Linked DNA regions of Homo sapiens. The protein of the gene in region 3 interacts with the protein of the main gene of each other region in a biochemical or structural test. Each region holds a gene or a part of one and is shown on either strand. Other genes may lie near its edges.

The links.
Region 1: the proteins of ANXA7 (region 3) and ALG2 form a complex in vitro, tested with the Homo sapiens proteins (one study listed by BioGRID).
Region 2: of the proteins of ANXA7 (region 3) and PRKG1, one has a biochemical effect on the other in vitro, tested with the Homo sapiens proteins (one study listed by BioGRID).

Annotation. Positions count from the first base shown.
Region 1 is NC_000009.12:99,218,306-99,226,139, forward strand, and holds the start of ALG2 (alpha-1,3/1,6-mannosyltransferase ALG2), read right to left. Parts: upstream 3,638-7,834; 5' UTR 3,590-3,637; coding exon 3,242-3,589; intron 3,211-3,241; exon of another isoform or gene 2,743-3,210; coding exon of another isoform or gene 2,674-2,742; intron 532-2,673; coding exon 1-531. Other genes in the region: SEC61B (protein transport protein Sec61 subunit beta), read left to right, coding at 5,812-5,865. UniProt on the Homo sapiens protein: Mannosyltransferase that operates in the biosynthetic pathway of dolichol-linked oligosaccharides, the glycan precursors employed in protein asparagine (N)-glycosylation.
Region 2 is NC_000010.11:51,077,165-51,084,801, forward strand, and holds part of PRKG1 (cGMP-dependent protein kinase 1), read left to right. Parts: intron 1-7,637. UniProt on the Homo sapiens protein: Serine/threonine protein kinase that acts as a key mediator of the nitric oxide (NO)/cGMP signaling pathway. GMP binding activates PRKG1, which phosphorylates serines and threonines on many cellular proteins.
Region 3 is NC_000010.11:73,403,834-73,411,470, reverse strand, and holds part of ANXA7 (annexin A7), read left to right. Parts: intron 1-3,152; exon of another isoform or gene 3,153-3,295; intron 3,296-7,637. UniProt on the Homo sapiens protein: Calcium/phospholipid-binding protein which promotes membrane fusion and is involved in exocytosis.

The DNA.
Region 1 (7,834 bases), on a different chromosome or scaffold from region 3:
AAGGTCGGACTGTTGGACCATTTTCTTCAATTCCTGATAATGTTCCACATTCTCCAGGACTCTCTCGTCATAACCACCTGCCACGATCAGATGAACCCTCTCCCAATCTTGGGATGTCAATCTTCCACGCAGCTGTACTAGGGCTTCCAGTGCCAAAGTCAGATTTTTCTTCCTTTCGTATCTGTTGATGGAGAGCAGCAGGAATTTTTTCCCCTTGGGGACTAGGTCATCCAGCTTTTCAGGAACAACTGAGTCAAAGCTGGTGACATTTAGAGATGGATAGAGGACATCAGGGTCTATGTGAGACAGGGACTTGAATGTTTCCTTAAAAACAGCAGCTGTGAACTGGCTGTTGACTAAGATGCAGTCTGCCATGCCTGTGGTGTATTCCTCTATCCAGTCAATTGGGGCCCTGTATAGTCGTTTAAGAAAAGAATCTCTCTTGGTGAGAAGCAGATCTGGGAAGTGACAGTAAAATAGGATCTTCTTCCGCCGTCTAGCCAGCCTGAACACTGGGATACAGGCAGACACCTAGCCAAAGCAAAAATCAACAGCGGATAAAGTGGTCAACTCAACTTCAACCAAACCAAAAACACAGACACCCACCCCGTCTGGCTAGTCTGTGGGCTCCTCATGGGCAATGTCTGATTCTGTTTTATTCCCCAAGACTCTCACCCAGTACCATATGCCTGGTGTACAGAAGGCTACAGACGTTTGCTAGATGTGTGCTAAACATTTAAAGCTTCAAGTCCAGTGATTTCCTCTTGTATAGTGCTGTCTAATAGAAATCTAGTAATATTAAAAATGTTTTTAAGGGTGAAATTAATTTTAACATATTATTTACCGAAAACATTATCATTTCAAAATGTAACCAATACTAAACAGTATTAATGAGATACTTTATATATACATATATTTCACATTACATCTTCAAAATCGGTTTGTATTTTAACTTTAGCACATCTCAGTTTAGACTAGCCACATTTCAAGTGCTCAACAGCCACATGTGGCTAGTGGCTACCATACTGAACAGTGCCGCTCTAGGATCTTTCTCCTTCTAAGGAACTGAATGAATGAACTATAGTAGTTTAGAGCACAAGCTCTAGATTCAAGACTGCCAGGGTTTGAATCTCAGCTCTACTAACTGGCCACGATCAAGTAATTTATCCCACTCTGGGCCTTAGTTTCCTCTTCTGTAACATGGTGACAAATTATAGTTCAAAAAACCCATATACTTTTTGTGATTATTAAATGCACTGATATATGCAAAACACATGGAGTTTAGCACACAGTATGTGCTCAATAAATATTAAAGCTAGTCATCATTGAGCATGAACTACATGCTGGCATTACTACAGACTTTCTTGTTGGGTAATCTTTACAAGTCATTTTAGTCTCAGCTAACTTAAAACCTGAAGAAGGTAACTTTAGGGATAATGTGCAATTTATTCAAAGCCACTTAATTAAAGCAGTAGATACGGAACTTGAATCCAAGATGCCTATTTCCAAGCCAATAATTTTTCCTCTACCCACTATAGTCTCAGCTGCCTCATGTCTACTGACACATGCAGGATGTTTGGTAAATGTCCACGTTACTTAAAAAGAAAGCTTCCATGCAAGCAAGGATGATCAAAAGTAACTCAGGAGTCATAATTAAAGAAACACAAATACAAATGTGATGCCATCTGCACCTATCAGTTTGGCAAAGTTTAAAATGGTTAATATCCAAGGCGGACAAAAGCATGGAGTAAGAGGCTCTATCATACATTGTGGGGGAGTAAAGTGACACAGCCTCCTTGGTAGGCAAACTTGGCAGTAGCTATTGATATTTAAAATGAACAACTCTTAGACCCACCAACTTTAGGAATTTCCTCAAACGACATATTTGCAGAAGTACAAAAATATTTTAAAAAAAAGAAGTAAAAGGATGTTCATTACAACACTGATCTATTCACAAAAAACTAGTCACAACATTAGTGTCCTTTAAGGAGAATGTTTAATTATGACACACTTAAACAAAAGTGGATTTTCTGGCCACTATGAAGAATGAAGTGAATCTCTAATATTGATACATAAGAATGTCCCGGCTGGGCGCAGTGGCTCATGCCTGTAATCCCAGCACTTTGGGAGGCCGAGGTGGGCGGATCGCGAGGTCAGGAGTTCGAGACCAGCCTGGCCAACATGGTGAAACCCCATCTCTACTAAAAATAGAAAAAATTAGCCGGGCGTGGGGCGCGCACCTGTACTCCCAGCTACTCTGGAGGCGGAGGTTGCAGTGAGCCGAGATCGCGCCACTGCACTCCAGCCTGGGAGACAGAGCAAGACTCCGTTTCAAAATAAATAAATAAATAAATAAATTTTTGCTGAAAAAGATGCCTAATAGTAGGTATGTCATAATACCAATTATGTACCAATAAGAAGATATAGATATACCTATGAAAAGACACAGGCTGGTGTCACCACAACTTCTGAAAAAATACAAGAGAAACTTAACGGTGGCTATCTTCAGGGAGTAGAATAGGACGGGGCTTTTAGGTTACATCCTTCTATACTACTAAATTTTTAATCGAGTAAATGTTACTTTTTAAAGTCATCTTTTTTAGGATGGGGAAAAATGCACGAAGGAAAGAGTCAAGAATAGCTACAGGGCAGATCCAGGTGGACATTATTTACCAAGGTAAAAAGCTTGAACTTTTCTCCAAAAACCAATGGGGAGCCATGTACAAGTTTTAATAGGGGCATGATATATTCAGCTTGGCGTTTTTAACACATGACACTGCTGAGGACGGTGTGGCCTGGCTCCGAACACAAGGACAGTGGGATGCAAATGGCCTGAAAGGAGAGTCAACAAAAATAACAGGTAAGCGGGAAGACAACACGCGAGTTACTCATTAGTAAAAGGTGACTGAAGCTGACTTCTAATACCAGCGTTTCTCAGAGCCCCAAAGACTATCTACCTCGGAATCACCCTATGACCCAGTTAAAATGCAGATGTCTGGGCCCCACCTCAGGGCACCTGGATGAAAACTTCCTGGAGGATGGAACCCCAGCAATCTGCAACTTTAAATGGGCCCACACTAAAGTTAGAGAACCACAGGCTCGCTCACAACCCTGACTTCTCCATGTCAGTTCCGATCTTTGCGAACCGCAGACAGGGAAGGTCTTCTCTCAGGGGTCATGCCCGCGGCCGCCCTCCACGGCGAGGTCCGCACTCGCGCAGCCGGCCCCGCGGCCGCCTCACCTGGTCGCACACTACCACGTCGAACTCCTCGTCGGCGAGGAACAGCACGTAGAGCGCCAGGAAAACCATGCGCACGTAGGCGCAGACGGCGGCGCCGCGGCCGCCCCAGCCCAGGCCTCGCGGCAGCCAGTCCCCGGCACAGCGCACCGGTAGCTCGCGGCTCTCGGCGAAACAGTGGCCCGGGTCGTAGTGCGCTGTCCAGATCTTCACGCTACACCCGCGCGCCTGCAGCGCCAGCGCCGCGTCCAACACCAGCCGCTCAGCGCCGCCCACGCCCAGGTCTGGGTGGAGGAACAGCACCGACGGCTTGGGAACCGAGTCCCGTTCCCGGCCCTGCTCCTCCGCCATGGCCCTGGAGCCGCAACTGCACCCCGCACCCTGATGGGGGTCTTCTGCGCAAGCTCCGCGCTCGTAGCTCCCAGCTGGCCACTGCGGGCCGACCCCGCCCTGCCGTACGTGCGTCAGTTAGGCCACATCAGCGCAAATCTGTGAGGGTCTAGTAACTGCCTGAGAAAATATCTTGTCTGACCCCGGTTATATTTTTCCTTCGGTAGGGATTGGACTTTCTGAAGGACGTTGTGATCCAAAGGAAGGAGGCCGGAGGTCTCTACTTCCCATACAGCAGGTAACTAAGTTGTCTGTAGCAGACTGTCTACAGGCATATCGTGAGACGACCCAGGCGTCCCTGGGGTCAGAGAGGACCTTGCCTGCAAGTCCGGGGGCGGGGCCTGAGTCAGTCTCGCCAGCTGCCGGTCTTTCGGGGGCTCCGTAACTTTCTATCCGTCCGCGTCAGCGCCTTGCCACCCTCATCTCCAATATGGTATGGCGGCCCTTCCATGATCCCCGCCTCTCCCAGAAGCCCTGACTCCTCCTGCTTTGCGCCGTGCTTTTCCTCTGTAGCTCCCTTGCTTCCCCCAGCCTCGGGTGTGGGTGTCTAGGCCGGGGTTCTGGGGCAGGCCTGCCGCGCTCACCCGTCTGTCTGCTTGTCTCCCTCTACAGCCTGGTCCGACCCCCAGTGGCACTAACGTGGGATCCTCAGGGCGCTCTCCCAGCAAAGCAGTGGCCGCCCGGGCGGCGGGATCCACTGTCCGGCAGAGGTAAGGAACCCTGCAGTTCGTTCGCTTCCAGACTCGGAGATAGGACCCAGAACCTCGCTGATTCTGGGGTGGAGACCCTAGCATGTGAAGATTGACAAAGGCAAAATGAGCTTCTAGTGACGTGGCCGTGGGAGTAGTTAAAGGCCTTTTGGGAGGAAGGCGACATTTTTTTTCTCGTTGCTCAGTTTAGGGCACTACTCTTAAAAAAGGAAAGTTAACAAACTGGAATAGAGTCAGAGATAACTTTGAGAAAACCGATGTCATTAAACTGGTGTCTCTGGACCTGAGGTTTGCACTCACATTTCCATCTGGCGGCCCCATAAGCAATCTGTCCTACAGATAACTCGTCCTACACAAAACTTAGTCTCTTTTCAGCTCAGCTCTCTCACTCTCAATTATATCTCCTTACTTCCATATGGCACTGTTGTACACTCATTTACTCAGAGCCAGAAACGTCAGCGTCATCTTGGATTTTTCTTATGCTCTTTCTCTCTCTAGTCATATGCCAGACTTTAAACTCTGCTTGAAAGCTTTCTCATAAGCTCTTTCCTTTTCCCTTTCTACTGCTTTGCATTTGCTACTTAACCCTTTTCTTCAGGCTGTTTGCTTTCCAGTCCATCGTTCGCTCTGCTGTTACTCTTCTGCGTAGTTTCTGTTACTTGTTGCTGAACTAAAAAAAACAAACAAACAAAAAAAAAAAACCGGGGGGATACCAAAGCTCTTAGTGGTCATTTCAGCCTAACCTTTCTTTTTCCTTTTTTTTTTTTTGGGATGGAATCTCACTCTGTCGCCCAGGCTGGAGTGCAGTGGCACGATCTCGGCTCACTACAGCCTTTGCCTCCAGAGTTCAAGCAATTCTCCTGCCTCAGCCTCCTGAGTAGCTGAGACTGCAGGCACGTGCCACCACACCCAGCTAATTTTTTGTATTTTTAGTAGAGACGGGGTTTCACCATGTTAGCCAGGATGGTCTCGATCTCCTGACCTTGTGATCCTCCGTCTCTGCCTCCAAAAGTGCTGGAATTACAGGCGTGAGCCACTGCGCCCGGCCTTCAGCCTAATCTTTCTTTGCTGTCCTATGATCCAGCACTCGTGAACCCATTACTGTTTTCTGAATTCACAAACTTTCTCCCTCATCTCAAGGCAAATTTCTACTTATTTTCCAAGACTAAGCTCAGGGGTTATTTCCTCTTGAGGCCTTCTCTGTCTGTAAGCAGCAGTAGCTACTAGTTTTCCCTTTTGCCCCCATAGCATTTTGTTCATATCATTATAAGACCAGTGATGTTTCCATATTTATCTCCTTCATTAGACTTTAACAGAGAACCTGCTCAAGTCATTTCTATCCCAGGTACCCACCATAAGGCATGACACAATAAATAATGACTGAAGGAAGGAATCAAGCAACCAAGTTGTTTTGGGATTTTTGAAGGAACTAGTGGGGTTTTATCTAGGGAGGAAAAAATCTTGAACACATGCATGGAAACTTCTGAAGGATGTGAAGAGGGATGTGACATTTTCTGGCTGCAACAGGTAAATCTAAAACTGATGATTTGAACTTACATGAAATATTTCACATCAGAACAAAGACATTCTAATAGAACTGGCAGAAATGTAAAATTATCCTGAATGATTTTGAGTTCCCTGTCATTGGGATGTTCATGAGGAGTGTATCAGGCTGTGGTTTAACTTATATGGGCTTTGAGTGCTGTCCCCTTCCCACCCTGGGTTTTAGAGATTTTTCGTGCAGGAATGGAAAACATGTCCTGTGGGTGCGGTTCCTTGGGAATGGTTCTGCTTAATGAGAATTGGTAATACTGTGGCAGGGAAGTTTGGCCATCCGAGAATTTGTAAAGAAATAAAAGAAAAAGCACATATTTATCAAATGTACATATGATAATGAAATTATTTATTTAATAGTAAAAATGAAATAACTGATGCACAAGTGAAATGGAGAACTGAAACATTTGAAGACAGACAGATGCAGTTTTTAAAGTCGTGGGTGTTGGTGTCATCTTTTAGGATTCAGTGTGATAGAGCTAGTGTAACAAGAAAGACCATGGTTGTATGTATTGAGAGACCTGACAGTGTTTCCTTCTAGAATGGTAGTGATTAAGTATCATTTCATGAGTATAATGTAATAAGTATTGGTTGTTTAAGAATATCTTTGCTTTATAAGTCTGAGAAAACATTGGAAGTTAATGATTCATAATAGTGCTTTGGATTATGTTGTCTGTAGAGCTGCCTTCTCCATGCTTGATGAGGTGATAGATACTACCTTGGAGGAGAAATGTTATTAAATTTAAGCTCAGGCCAGAGTTGGTGTTCTTGCTCTCCTAAATACAATATAAAAGGAACTTGCTGTGAGGAGCAATAATGCTTTATAAACTGTAAAGGTGTGAAGTGCCACATAGTGTTCTAGCAGGATTAATGGGAATCAGGGATATTAAGATGGCGGAATAGCCACCAATGTATAGACATCAAGGTATTGAGGTCTACTACATGCCAAATGCTGTTTCATCTCCGAAGATGGGTCTGTGAACAAGGTAGGCAAGGTTTGTACTCATGAACCTTATATTCCAGTGTGGGAGATCAAACGCAAGGAAAATAAGACAATGTAATTTCAGGCAATAAGGGCTATGAAGATAAATAAAGCTGGGTGGGGGATAGAGAGTGGTGGGGATAGGGCAAAGGTAGGTAGTTGTTTTAGATAGGGTGTTCACAGTAGGTAATACCTGAGTAGATACCTGAAAGAAGCAAGAGAGCAAATCACACAATGGTTTGGGGACGAATAGGCCTCCTAGGCAAAAGGAGTGGGTAAGTATGAAGATTCTGAGGTCGATGAGGTTGGCTTTGAGGAGCAACAGAAGCACCATGTTAGAACCAAGTGTGTAACTGGTTAGTTTTGAAAACCATTGTGTTGAGGTATAGAAGGGAGAGACAGTTACACAGTGGCCAGAAAGAAAGGGTAAAATAGCCCCCAAATACAAATTTGAGAGATTCAATGTGTTTTATTAACCTTTACCTAGCTACCCCTAGGGAATGGGAAGTATTTTGAGTACACTTTAGTATTTCTAGGGGCTCTGGTTTTCAAATACTCTTCTATGTTCCATGCGCCAGCAGAAATAAGAAATCTTAAGAGAAGCCAGCCTGACTCCTCTGGGGCTCCTGTAATTCCAGGAAACTTTGAAGTCAGGAACTGGAGGTGTGATATTGTGGAAATAGTAGGAAGTGCATGCGTCCAAGTCCTGGCTCAGTCCATGACTATAATATGTTCACACTGGGTTTATCTTCTAGCTTAAAATCCTTTTCAATGAACAAGGAGGAAGATTTCAGCTGCATACCCCACAGATGGAATGACATATATCTGTGTGTGTGAAACCTTTTCTAAGGGCATGAATCTTTCTGTAAATCCCTGTACAGTTATGTTTTGCCATTTACAATCAGTTTTCCCATAGGAATGGTCACACAATGAAGTTTTAAGTTCCCAGGCTACCACGTA
Region 2 (7,637 bases), about 22 Mb from region 3:
AGTTAAGAAAACCTGCCAAACCAAAGAAGACTTGTTTGCCTTTCAATGTATTTCACTATGAATAATTTGATTACACGGACTTACTGGCAACAAGTGTTTGTGTCTTTGTATTTCATCTTTACTACATCTTAAATGTAGCCATCTTTCTTAAACATACATATAGATTATTGTGAGTTTCCAGTTAAAATGAAACTATCTAAATAGACACATTAATTTCCAGTTTACGTTCATGCTAGTTTTTGATTCTCTTTTTTTTAGATGTAGGTAACTGCCCCGCTAATGTTCTGTTCATTTATCTGATATATGCAAATATATCTGTTTAGTTTTTACTTACTAAGGTTGCCTTCTGAGGATTATAATTTTTTTTAGTTCTGGTTTCTTGGTAAATTTGGTCATTTAAAAATAGTATAAAATGTAAATTAACTTAATAACTTGAATCATTTTAACATTTTTGGCTTGGAATTTTTCCTTTAATGTGGGAATTGGAGGGAAGGTTCTGTCAGATTCCAGCACTGAGCCAGGACACTCCTGCTATAACTATGAGGTAGGAGGAGGGTTTTTATTGGTCTCTTTCACAATCTGTATAGATACAATACTTATGTGAAGGAAAGAACTGATGTAGCAAATTGGAATCTGTATTCCACTGCTACCAAATAACTCCTTGAGAATGTAAAACTACTAAACTATATTTGGAAATAAACTGAGCAAATAAACCCTTAAAATGAAAAACAAAACCTAAGCATTCATTATGTGAGATCAGATAGCCTGTTGATTGCCTATATAGAATAGTTCTTATGGACTTAAGTAATTTTATTTCATGAAGTTTCATTCCTGAAATTGATTCTATATCATGTTAGAACATTCAGTCTCTGAAATTTTGATCTAAACCCCTTATCTTTTGAAAATATTCCCAAATCTTTTCCATTTTCATGTCACAGGGTTTCAGTCATTTCAGTTGGATTATATAGACTTGAGTTCCTAAAAGTGGTTAGTGTCTTTGTATTTTTGTAAGCTGTTGCTTTCACTCCATGTTCTATTTTGTTTCCTTTCTTTTTCCTTTGTTGTTGTTGTTGAGACAGAGTCTCACTCTGTCACCCAGGATGGAGTGCAGTGGCACGATCTTGGCTCACTGTAACCTCCGCCTCCAGGGTTCAAGCAACTCTCCCATCGCAGCCTCCTGAGTGGCTGGGATTACAGGCACGTGCCACCAATGCCTGGCTATTTTTTTTTTTTTTTTTTTTTTTTAGTAGAGATGGGGTTTCGCCATTTTGGCCAGGCTGATCTTGAACTCCTGAACTCAGGTTATCAGCCCACCTGGGCCTCCAAAAGTGCTGAGATTACAGATGTGAGCCACCACACCTGGCCCCTGTTTCACTTTTTCATTGCGAAGTACTTTGGAGGAGTTGAGGATAAAAATATTTATTTATATTTATTTATTTATTTATTTATTTATTTATTTATTTATTTATTGAGACGGAGTCTCGCTCTATCGCCCAGGCTGGAGTGCAGTGGTGCCATCTCAGCTCACTGCAAGCTCTGCCTCCCGGGTTCACACCATTCTCTTGCCTCAGCCTCCTGAGTAGCTGGGACTACAGGCGCCAGCCACCACGCCCGGCTAATTTTTTTGTATTTTCAGTAGAGACGGGGTTTCACAGTGTTACCAGGATGGTCTTGATCTCCTGACCTCATGATCCGCCTGCCTTGGCCTCCCAAAATGCTGGGATTACAGGTGTGAGCCACCGCACCCGGCCTATTTTTATTTTTAAGGAGGCATTCATTTTAAGAGATTATTTAATCTTTTAAACTTTATACTGATATATCTCAAGAAAAACAAAATGTTCCTAAAGACTGTATATTAAATTCTGTTGGAAGTTGAGAGAATTCTAGAATTCTAGTGTAATCATAGATGGCATAATATTAAAACATAGATGGCTTGAAAGGTAGAAATTTAATTCCAAAAGTGCCCTACATCTCAGTTCAATACTTCTATGGGATTGCCTGTGACATGCAAAATATTGTAAGGCATTAGAGGTAAGAGCTACATAGGTCCTACCATCCAGGAGTGAACAAGGGGTTAACAATACTGCACAAGTAAATATTCTAGAAAGTAGATAGAGTAAGGTAAGTCACAGGGGAGATAACTAAGAGAGTTGGCAAAATATAATCAAGCCTGTTTGGTTTTATGGTGTCAGAAACTCATGTGGAAGTAGAAGGGTTTAAAGTAAGTATTTGAAGAAGGGCTATGATTTAGGTGAGTGGAAATGAGAGGAAAGAGGGAGGGATAGAGATAGGGATTGGGGAAATACATTCCAAGCCATTAGCAAAGTGACAGCACAGAAAAAGAAAGCAGGGCCCCTCTGGGAATTGGGAGCAACTAGTGGCTGTGCTAAAGTACTGTAGTGGGAACTGTGGAAAAGCAAGTTTAGGCCAGTGAGAATGAGAATCTTGGTTTCTATGATTTGATAAAGTAGGCGAGAGGGCATTCTTTTGGGTTTTAGAATAGCTAAGGCTCATTTGTGTGTGTGTGTGTGTGTGTGTGTTTTACACCAAGGACTAATAGTTACCCACTAATGCAGTTCTGAATGCCAGAATATCAGTTCAGCTTTCTTACCCCCACCATCACAGTCCTGTTAATAGTCGTAACTATATAACTAGGTAAGAGTAGTTAATTGAAGCAAACAGCAGATGATTAGAAGTCTTAAAGAAACCAAGTTCCAAGTTCCTTTTTCCACTCACTTCCAAATGTTCTCATTGAAAGTAATCTAACTTGATGCCACAGACTAGCACTGCAGATTCCTCACATACCTAGGCAAACTGAACATCAATGAGAATTGAACCTGAAGTTGTTTTTCGAAAGTCATCTTTCTTGTTTTTGTGGAGGAGTTAAATTCCAACCTAATGTTATTCTAATAGAGTTTCTAATTTAAGGTTGATTGTTAATTTGACATTACAGTTTATGCAGTAGAAATGAAGTCCCGGGAGCATTTATAAAAATGTATGAGACCAGCGTGCTAAAACCCTATTAGGGTATTTTGAAGCACAGTCAAGTTGCATGCCCCCAAAATGGGTCTTATAATGAAGATACTGGTAAGCTCTTAAATAGAATGGCTCTACTACCTGCCTGAGAATATAAATTACCAGCTTCCTTGCTCTACTGGGTCACATTTCCAAGCTCCTGCTACTTGTTATCTGGATTCCTAATGGGAAAGGGTAGAAGAACACAGATGATGTTTCTATTGTTGCTGTTTGCAGGTTATAAGGCATATGGACACATTTTTTTTTCTGTCTGCCTAGCAATGGAGGGTCTCCATGGTATCCTAGCAACCATATTCGAACACCAGGCTGCTGCTCTTTCTGCCATCTCTACCATAGGTGCTGCAGCCCATCCCAAGAAACTGGGTCTGTTGCTAGCATTCCAGATCCTCTGACTTGAACCTTTCAAGCTCAGAGAACGCAAGACAATGTGATAAATAAGCACATGCTGAAAGCAGCATTTACCAGTATGCTCAACAACTTATTATGCAATCACATCCTTGGCATTTTGTATCCTAATCTGAATTGTTGAGCTGGTACTGTTTGCCACCCCTTCCCCGACAGCCCTTGTCTGCTTCCTCACACTCAGTTCTGACACCGGTTCTGCTTCCCTCTCACCATCTTCTGTAACGACTGTGTTCCTCAGCACTTCCTTAAAATTTATTTTCTGAGAAGTTCAGTATGTGCAACCTGTTTGAACTCTCTAAGGATAATTTTGTTTGTAAGAGCAGAGGAATTTTCTCCCTCCAAAACTGTCCTGTAAATATAAACAATAGCACAAAAACTTCAGCTACACAAAACAGATGTTTAACACAATGTGGAACTAATAGTACACTCTCAAAACTGTCTTATTTCTGAATGAATTTTATAAGCATACTACTCTCCAGCTTTTTTCATTGCTTATAAAATTCATATAAGCATTCCTTCTGGAGGCTCTAGGGGAGACTCCATATCTTGTCTTTTTCAGCTTCTAGAGGCTGCCTATATTTTAAGCGTGAAATTTATAAGCAATGAAAAAAGCTGGAGAGTAGAGTGAGAAGAAGAAATGCATATCGAGGGAACAAGAAAGGGCGAAACGAGATGGGTATTGGTAAAACTATGCCATATTTGCAAGGAAGTTGGAAAATAGTGATAGGCTTTGTGTGCAAGTAAATAGGTGACAAGACTGGAAAAGAGCTTGCAAGTAAGATAGTACTTTATGGATGAAGACTGCCATAGAGAAGAGACACCCAAATTAGAGTATATCGAAGGCTTGCCTTCTTAGGGAGCTATACTGAAGATAGTTTCCCATTAGACCAGTGCTTGTTTTGAATGCATTGTATTGTCCCTTTGAAATGCTCCTTAATTTGACATCATTGAGGACTTGGTGGTGTTTGTGCAGCCAACAGTGCAGAGGACAAGAATAAGGGCAACAACTCAGTGCATCCTGCTTCTGAATGAAAGCATCAAGAATTACACTGCTCATCATCATCAGATTGGGTAACATTTATGGAGCACTAACTCTGTGCCAGGCACTGCTCCTGTGCTTTATATAGATTGTCTCTTTCATTGATTGAATGATTGATTGATTGATTGAGACAGGTTCTTTCTGTCTTATTGCCCAGGCTGGAGTGCAGTGACACAGCCATAGCTCACTGCAGCTTCAAACTCCTGGGCTCAAGTGATCCTCTTGCCTCAGCCTCCAGAGTAGCCAAGATTATAGGCACATAGCACCACACCTGGATAATTTTTAATTTTTTTCTGTAGAGACAGGGTCTCAGTTGCACAGGCTGGTCTTGAACTTCTGGCCTCAAATGATTCTCCAGCATCTGGGCCTCCAAAGAAAGTGCTGGGAATACATATGTAAGCCACCGCACCCCACCTGATCATCTTTTTTTTAGGACAAAAACAACCCTATGAGGAAGATTCTGGATTATCCCAATTTCACAGCATGAGAAAAAGAACTCTGGGGCGCAGAGAAGTGAAGCAACTTGCCCACAGTCACACTAGGTTGAGCCTGAATTTGAGCTCCAGAGCTTTTCTCCTTAGCCACTAGGCTCTCTTACTGCCCAAAGGGTCATGGGGATTAGGTAGCTGCAGGAAAACTTTATGAATAACATATAGGTCATTCTCTGGGGTGTATCTGTTCACCAATAATTAAATAGGAAGCAGAAGGACTCTGGGACTAGTGGAAGAAATAATGTAGGACGGCGGTTCCCAAACTTTCCTGCGCATTAGAATCACATGGGGAACATAAAAATCCAATTCCTAGATTGTACCACAAACCAATTAAAATCAGAATGTCCGGGTGTTGGAAGCTACATATCAGTAATTTTTGATGATTCTCCATGTAACTTTAACGTGTAGCAAAATTTGATAACCACTCTAATAGGAAGATGACAAGAGGAGTGTGTGTGTTTGTTGTGTGTGTACATTTGTGTGTGATATTAAACAAAAGACCAGGATAAAGTGTTCATCTAAAGAGTTGAATGTCTCTATTGGCTAAAACCTTTAAGCACTAGGGGCCTGCGAAAGCATAGCTGGATTTTTTTTTTTGCCAAATTGTACGTGTAGACAAATTGTACGTGTAGTTTAGTTGATGCCTTCTTGTTTATTCTCCTAAACAAGTGATCATTTCCCTACCTAGCCCATTGGTTCTCAAACATAGCTGTATGTTACAATCACCTAGGGAGCTTTAAAACATACATTTGCTGGGCACCACCTCCAGAGCCTATGATTTAATTGCTCTGGGGTAGACCTGAGGTATAGGTATATTATTTTTACTCCCAAAGTGATTATAATATTCAGCCAGGGTTGAGAAACCTCTGCTATGACCCATTCATTGTTGATTGTTACAGACTACTTGAATTCCTATTCTTTGGGGAAGCACCTTTCTTGTTTCTTTTTGAGCAACCCAAGTCCCTGGCTTGCAGTGGAGCCAGGCAGCTTCAGCTCCCCAATCTCCCTAGCATCTGAACCTATCAGCATCACTTTAATCTCTGGGGTTACCTGTTAAGGACCTGGGGCACACAAAAGTGGCAGCAGCTCTGTTCAGTGGGTAAGTTTGTTTCCCCTTTCCTGCCAGCCAGGGTTCCTGGCCACTTTCAAATGTGACACACATTAGGATCAGCTTTCATCCCAAGTTTTTTGTTTGTTTGTTTTGTTTTTAAATTCTTGCTGAGGGCAGCTGCCTCTGTGGCCAGATAGTTTCTTTGGGTCCCAGCTCCTGCTATCCAATGCTAAGTTGAAGGTGAAACAATGATGAGCGCCTCTTGGAAGAGCAGTCCTGGGCTTGTAGCGTCTCTCTTGGTATGTGATGTCTCTGCAGCCAGCTACAGTTTTTTTTTTTTTTCCTACAGATATTTTATCCTTTTAAGGCAAACAGCGTGAGCTCAGGCTGAGGAGTACTTTCCGAGGAGACTTCAGAGAAAGCAGAACTAGCACATCAACCTTTCAGCCCCCTTTCCAGGAGGCTTGGTTTAAGTGGACAGATCTGGGCATTGCTGGCAGTTGAGAGGTCGGAGACGACACCTGCAATAAAAGATCTTGGTGTGTCCCTCATGAAGACTTCCAGGGGAAATGAGAATTCCTAAACCCTGTGGTCAGACCTCACTGCTGCCCCTATTGCCAGCTCTGTGTGTCTTTCCTGCCCTCTGTCCCCTTAGATCCTTGTTACAAAGTCCTCAAGGTGTTGCTAATGGTCTCTGCTAGGAGCCTATTTACATTTGTAATTTAATCATTACCTTCTCAGGTGAGGATCAGCCAATATAGCACTTTATATAAGCAATGAAAATAGCTAATATAATTGCAAATACTTTTTGATAAAAATAATCTTAGAATCGGAGTCAGCAAGGAGCTTTTCTGTCTTTTCCCCACTCCTAAAATATGAAAATGTATTCAGCTGACAGATAGTATGTTAAAACAGAATAGATGTAATAAGGCTACCCGGAGGATTGGGGACATTAATTATGCAGGGAAGTTAATCATAAGTAAAGTAAACACTTTCATTATGAATCCAGCTTCATGGAGTGCATTTGGTTATTGCGCGTAATTGGGGAGGGATAAGAGGAATTAGAAACAATGAAAAACATGACCAAAAACATGTGTTTAATTATTATGACTTAGCAGTTAGAAGCAGAATGATAGGCAGAAGTTGGTGGTAGGACACTGGGAAAATATCTGTGTCTTTGCATTCTTTTATTCCAACCTATGAAAGGATGGGAGTTCATATAAAAAGAAGAAATTAGTGACAATTTACTACCAAGATATACTACTTTCACCTGCATCAAAAATAAAATAATGTTAATTACTTTTGCCTTTCTAAAGATCATAAATGTAAATTAAACTTCAGATTTGCTTTAAGATAGATGTAATTTAATTCACTTCTACATAGAGGTGGAGAGAAAATAATGTAAGCTATTTACTTATGCTTTGGCTGGGCATAAAACATGAGTAAATACCTTACATTATTTTTATGTGATTATAATATGCATCAAAAAACAGATCTAATGTTATTGACCTTCTAATATTTAGTGTCATTTTCTCACTTTTAGACCCTACCTACTGTTAAGAAGTAACATTGTACTTCTTTGAACATGAGGTAATTATAGTATCATCCAGTCAGT
Region 3 (7,637 bases):
AGACTCCATCTCCAAAAAAAAAGATAAAATTTCAACAGCTTTTGGAGTACAAGTGGTTTTTTGTTACATGGATGAATTATATGGTGGTGAATTCTGAGATTTTAGTCACCCAAGTAATGTACATTGTACCTAATGTGTAGTTTTTGATTCCTAGCCCCCTTTCACCCTCCCCTTTCTGAGTCTCTAAAGTCCATTATATCACTTCATACCTATGTCTTTGCATACTCATAGCTTAGCTTCCACTTACACAGTGAGAACATACGGCTTTTGGTTTTCCACCCCTGTATTACTTCACTTAGAAAAATGGCCTCCAGCTTCATCCAAGTTGCTGCAAAAGACATTATTTTGTTCCTTTTAATGGCTGAGTAGTATTCCATGGTTTATATATACCACATTTTCTTTATCCACTCAGTTGATGGGCACTTAGATTGGTTCCACATCTTTGCAGTTGTGAGTTGTGCTGCTATAAATATACATGTGCAAAAGTCTTTTTCATATAATGACTTTCTTTCCTTTGGGTAGATACCCAGCAGTGGAATTTCTGGATTGAATGGTAGATCTTTTTTAGCTCTTCAAGGAGTCTCCATACTGTTTTCTGTAGAGGCTGTATAGTAGTGTAATAAGCGGTCTCTTTTCCCCACATCCACACCAACATCTATTGTTTTTTGACTTTTTTTTTTTTTTTTTTTGAGATGGAGTCTCGCTCTCGTTGCCAGGCTGGAGTGCAATGGCGTGATCTCAGCTCACCCCAACCTCCGCCTCCCGGATTCAAGCAATTCTCCTGACTCAGCCTCCCAAGTAGCTGGGATTACAGTCACACGCCACCATGCCCAGCTAATTTTGTTATTTTTGGTAGAGACGGGTTTCTCCATGTTGGTCAGGCTGGTTTCAAACTCCCAACCTCAGGTGATCGCCCGTCTGGGCCTCCCAAAGTGCTGGGATTACAGATGGGGGCTACCGCGCCCGGCCCATTTTTTGACTTTTTAAGAATAACCATTCCTGTAGGAGCACGGTGGTATCTCATTGTGGTTAATTTGCATTTCCCTGATGATTAATGATGTTGAATTATTAATGATTATTTCATGTTTTTTGGCCATTTGTGTATCTTTTGAGAAATGTCTATTCATGTCCTTTGCTCAGTTTTTAATGCAATTGTTTTTTTTTCTTTGTGATTTGAGTTCCTTGTAGATTCTGGATACTAGTCCTTTGTTGGATGCATAGTTTGCAAATATTTTCTCCCATTCTGTGGGTGGTCTGTTTACTCTGTTGATTATTTGTTTTGCTGTGCCGAAGCTTTTTAGTTTAATTAGGTCCCATCTATTTATTTTTGTTTTTGTTGCGTTTGTTTTTGGGGTCTTAGTCATGAATTTTTTGCCTAGGCCAGTGTTTAGAAGACTGTTTCCAATGTTCTAGAATTTTTATAGTTTCAGGTCTTATATTTAAATCTTTTATCAACTTGAGTTGATTTTTGCATTGGATGATAGTTAGGGATCCAGTTTCATTCTTCATGTGGCTTGCCAGTTTTCCCAGCATCATTTATTGAATAGGATGTCCATTCCCCAATTTTTGTTTTTGTGTGCTTTGTCAAAGAGCAGTTGGCTGTATGTATTTGGCTTTATTTCTGAGTTCTCTATTTTGTTCCATTGGTCTATGTGCCTACTTTTAAACCAGTACCATGCTGTTGTGGTAGCTATAGGCTTGTAGTGTATTTGAAGTCTGGTAATGTGATGTCTCCAGATTTGTCTTTTTGCTTAGAATTGCTTTGGCTATTCAGGCTGTTTTTTGTTCCATATTAATTTTAGGATTGTTTTTTCTAATTCTGTGAAAAATGATCTTGGTATTTTGATGGGAATCGCATTGAATCTGTAGATTGCTTTGGGCAGTATGGTCATTTTCACAATATTGATTCTTTCAATCCATGAGCATGGGATGAGTTTCCATTTATGTCATCTGTGATTTCTTTCAGCAGTATTTTGTAGTTCTCCTTGTAGAGATCTGTCATCTCCTTGGTGAAGCATATTCCTAGGTATTCTATTTATTTTTTATTTTTGCAGCTATTATAAAAGGGATTGAGCTCTTGATTTGATTCTCAGCTTGGACGTTTTTGGTATATAGCAGTGCTACTGATTTGTGTACATTGATTTTGTAACCTGAGACTTTACCGATTTCATTTATCAAATCTAAGAGTCTGTTGGAGTCTTTAGGATTTCCTTGGTATATAGTCATAATATCTGCAAACAGTGATAGTTTGACTTCCTCTTTTCCAATTTGGATACACTTTATTGCTTTCCCCTACTTTCCCTCTGGCTAATACTTCCAGAACTATGTCGAATAGGAGTGGTGAAAGTGGATGTCCTTGTCTTGTTCCTGTTCTCAGGGGGAATGCTTTCAACTTTTCCCCATTCAGTATGATGTTGGCTTTGTCGTCATATATGGCTTTTATTATTTTGAGTTAGGTCCTTTCTATGCCTCATTTGTTGAGTTCTTTATTGTAAAGGATGCTGGATTTTGTTGAATGCTTTTTCTGCATCTGTTGAGATCATATGGTTTTTGTTTTTAATTCTGTTTATGTGATACATCACATTTATTGACTTGCATATGTTAAATCATTCCAGCATCCCTGGGATGACACCTGTCCCTTATTGATGGACATTCACATGGTTTTTAACCTTTTCCTATTACAAAAATGCTGCAGTGAATAGCCTTGTACATATATAATTTTGTCCTTGTGCAAGTATTTCTATAAGGTACATTCCTGGAAATGGAATTGCATTCTAGTCTTTTATATAATTATTTTTCAAAATGTACCAAAATTCACTTTCTTAAAATAGCTTTAATTTTTATTATATACAGATAATCTTTGCCTTATTTTCATTTTTGTTGACATAATTCCTCCAGGCTCTTAAAGGTAAGATTTAAGATAGTAGCTAAAGAATTTAGATATAGGTCTTGTCACTGGAACAATTTCTTGAAACTTAGAAATTTAAATTGCTTATGATGTCTTTGGTACTGTAACTGCATATTGCCTTTCAAATTACTATTAATTTATCTCATAAATTATTTTCAGATTTTTTTTTCCTTTATTTTGACCCTGACCCTTTTGCCCTTGGTCTATCTACTTTTCTTTTTCTTTCTTTTTTTTTTTCTTTTTCCTTGTCTTGTCTTGTCTTTTCTTTCAACTGGAGTGCAATGATGCAAACACGACTCACTGCCGCCTTGACCTCCTGGCCTCAAGCAATTCTCCCACCTCAGCTTCCTGAATAGTTTGGACTACAGGTGGGCGCCGCTGCACTGGGTAATTTTTAAAATATTTTTGTAGGGACGAGGTCTTACTATGTTGCCCAGCATGGTCTTTAACTCCTTGGCTCAAGCAGTCCTCCCACCTTGGCCTCCCAGAGTTTTGGGATTATAGGTGTGAGCCACTGCGCCTGGCCTATCTGACCATTCTTTAGAGCTTTTGCCCCTCCTTTACTCTTTATACAAACCCAGGCTTAGAAAAGAAAAAAGCAAAAAAATTCAGCCTGTCCCTGTTTTTATATCCAGCCCTTTGGGATCCCAAATGATTATTTTATAATTGACTGGGTCAGTTTTCATATCATTTTATGTTTCTTATTGACTTATAGCCTTGATTCAATCTATGTCCGTTTATTCTCAATTCAGCACATTTTTAGCTTCTATCCTGTGTTCCTGTCATAAGGGACACTATATTATCTCATTTTCCTATACTGTGTACTCAAATGGCTGAATACTTAATCTTTCTATCAGCACCTAGGACAGTGCTCATTACACAGTGGACTTTCATAAATGTTGACTTGAGTTGGGTTTATTTGGCATCTGATATAAAAGAAATATGAATCATTTACAGCTGTATTGATGAAAAGTGCCAAAACATATATTTACAAATTTAGAAAATTAGGTGTAGATCCAGAAATCCCAAAGTATTCTGGTATCAGAGTGTGAATCACAGACCTGCAGAATCCATATCACCTGAAAGCTTTAGAAATGCAGAATCTCAGGCCCCATCCTGGAGCTACTGAATTAAAATCTCTATTTTAACACGATCCCTAGGGATTCATATACACATTAAAGTTTGAGGCCAGGTACAGTGGCTCACGCCTGTAATCCCAGCACTTTGGGAGGCTGAGGCAGGCAGATCACTTGGGGTCAGGAGTTTGTGACCAGCCTGGCCAACATGGTGAAACTCCGTCTCCATTAAAAATGCAAAAATTAAGCAGGTGTGGTAGTGCGCACCTGTAGTCTCAGCTACTTGGAATGCTAAAGGAGGAGAATCGCTTGAACCCAGGAGGTGGAGGCTGCAGTGACCCGAGATTGTGCCACTGCATTCCAGCCTGAGCAACAGAGCAAGACTGTCTCAAAAAGAAAACATTGAGAAACACTATTTTAGTCAACTACGTTGTTCAAAGAAGGAAGAGAGGAGACTTGAGCTAGATAGGAGGGGTGAGTAAGCCCAGGCTTGAGGGCCAAGTCAGTTAATGATAAGAATGGCTTAAGCAAAGGAATGCTGGGAATGGTTCAAGTGATAGAGATTTCACGTTGAGGGTTAGGTGTTGGTAAGAAATGAGTTAAATAGATAAATAGAGGGTGGGTGTGGTGGCTCATGCCTGTAATCCTAGCACTTTGGGAGGCTGAGGCGGGTGGATCTCTTGAACCCAGGAGTTCAAGACCAGCCTGGGCAGCATGGCGAAACCCCGTCTTTACTAAAAATACAAAAAATTAGCCAGGTATGGTTGTGTGCACCTGTAGTCTTAGCTCTTCAGGAGACTGAGATGAGAGGATCATCTGAGCCCAGGAATTCGAGGCTACAGTGAGCTGATGTCACACTACTGCACTCCAGCCTGGGCGATAGAGCAAGAAACCATCTCAAAAATATATGTATAATAATAATAATTGGAGCCAGTACTAAGGAGACCTGTATATCAGGCCAATTAATTTTCATTTGATACTCCAGCAGTAGTCATTGATGATTTTTGAGCTGAAGAGCAATTTGCTGAAAGAGCAGCATTTTAGGAAAGTTTAGCTAGTGACAGTGTCTGAGAAAATTGGGAGGGTGACAGAGTATAAGCAAGAATATAAACAGAGGAGGAGTTTTAGTAAGACAGGCATCAAGTGATGAAACTTGGTCTAAGTATATGACCATGAGAACAGAAATTACAGAAGAGGCATTTCAAAGGATGGATAGAAAAACACTGGTTTTGGCCGGGCGCAGTGGCTCATGCCTGCGATCCCAGCACCTTGGGAGGCCGAGGCGGCCAGATCACCTGAGGTCAGGAGTTCGAGACCAGCCTGGCCAACATGACGAAACCCTGTCTCTACTAAAATACAATAAATTAGCCGGGTGTGGTGGTGGGCGCCTGTAATCCCAGTTACTCAGGAGGCTGAGGCAGGAGAATTGCTTGAACCCAGGAGGTGGAAGCTGCAGTGAGCCGAGATTGCACCACTGCACTCCAGCTGGGGTGACAAGAGCGAAACTCTGTCTCAAAAAAAAAAAAGAAGAGAAAAATACTGGGTTTCTTACTATACTGGAGTATTAGGTAATTTAAGTAGTGGTGCTATTGACAGATAAAGGATGTTAAGAGTGGTGTGGTGGAGAATGACGAGTATTTTATTATACACATACAGAAAGCCTCCTGATTGACTTCTGTCTTAATCTGCTCCTTAGTCTATTTTGGTGATCATCCGTCTCACAGTTACGTCTCACCTTTTGCCTTGCAAATAACATTGTTCTACTTTCTTGCCTATCTGTGTCTAGCACCTTTAAAAGCCTGGTTTAAACCTTTGATCATTCACTCTCCACTTGTAGCAATGTTTTCTTGTAGATGCCAAAAAAGTGATTACTGACTTTATATAGATGTATTTGCCAGGTATATTATATCTGATCACTAATAGTATTTTAGATTTTTTTGTTGTTGTTGAAATGGAGTTTTGCCCTATCACCCAGGCTGGAGTGCAGTGGTGTGATCTTGGCTCACTGCAACCTCTGCCTCCTGGGTTCAAGCAATTCTGCCTCAGCCTCCTGAGTAGCTGGGCTTACAGGCACATGCCACCACGCCTGGCTAATTTTTGTATTTTTAGTAGAGACAGGGTTTCACCATGTTGGCCAGGCTGGTCTCGAACTCCTGACCTCAGTTGATCCGCCCACCTCAGCCTCCCAAAGTGCTGGGTGTATTACAGGCCTGGGCCACTGCACCCAGCCTTTTTTTTTTTTTTTTGAGACAGTATTGCTCTGTGGCCCAGGCTGGAGTGCAGTGGTGCAATCTTGGCTCACTGCAACCTCCACCTCCTGGGTTCAAGGGGTTCTCCTGCCTCAGCCTTCCAAGTAGCTGGGACTACAGGCACATGCCACCACACCCGGCTAATTTTTTGGATTTTTTATAGAGATGGGGTTTCATTGTGTTAGCGTGGATGGCCTCAATGTCCTGACCTTGTGATCTCCTCAGCCTCCCAAAGTGTTGGGATTACAGGCGTGAGCCACCGCGCCCGGCCCTAATTTTTGTATTTTTAATAGAGACAGGGTTTCACCATGTTGGTCAGGCTGGTCTCTGACCTCAAGTGATCCACCTGCGTTGGCTTCCAAAGTGCTCAGATTACAGGCGTGAACTACTGCGCCTGGCCGTGTTTTAGATTTGATCAGGCTAAGAGGGTATTCTTTTGAATGTTTGTTTTTTTCTCTGTTTATTTACATTTGCTTTAGGTTAATAGTGTTTTCTTCAAATGCAAAAGATATATATATATATATATATAGGGATATTTGTCTTTATCCACACTAGCTCCATTTATTTTACATGAGCCATCTTTTCAACAATGGACAGGAGAGTGTAATGAATCCCCATGTACTCATCACCCAGCGTGAGCAGTTATCAACTCCTGACTGCTTATTATGTCTAAATTCCTGCACTATATTATATAGAATATTCCTGCATATTATTTTGGCATAATCCCTGACATCGTATCGTTTTGTTTGTAAATACTTAATGTGTATCTCTAAAAGATCAGAATACTTGATGAAAATCATAGTACCATTATCACACCAAAAAAATAGTAATGTCTTAACATCACTTGATGTGCAGGTTATTGTTTACTTTTCCAAATGGAAATGAGCACCTTTTGAAGAACATAACTTTCAAACTTTCTGGTACAGACTGCAGTTTTTAAAAGATATTTCCAGTGTTATGTTTGCTGATCAGAAGACTATCAACTTTTGATCACCATTATTATCACAGAATAGATAATATATGAATGCCTCCTTAATCTCAGACTAACCACACTCTACCACCCTACTTTCTTTTTCCATCAGAAAGCATTCTAATTTTAAAATTATTCTAAGTCTAATAAAATTGAGAAAGTAAATGTACTGAAAGTGTTATAATGAATTAATAAAAGCCAAACTTCATGCTAATTATTTTTTTAATATTCTTGTATTATCTATCACAGTTCTCTATGATCATAGCAGTTAACACTTACTGAGGACTTACTTTATTGCAGGCACTGCTAAATGCTTTGCCTTTGTTCTTTTACTTAATTCTTACAACAACATCCTTAAGTAGGTACGTTCACGTCCCATTTTATAGATGAAGAAATGAAGGCCTAAAAAGGCTAAGTAACTTCCTTTGAGAAGC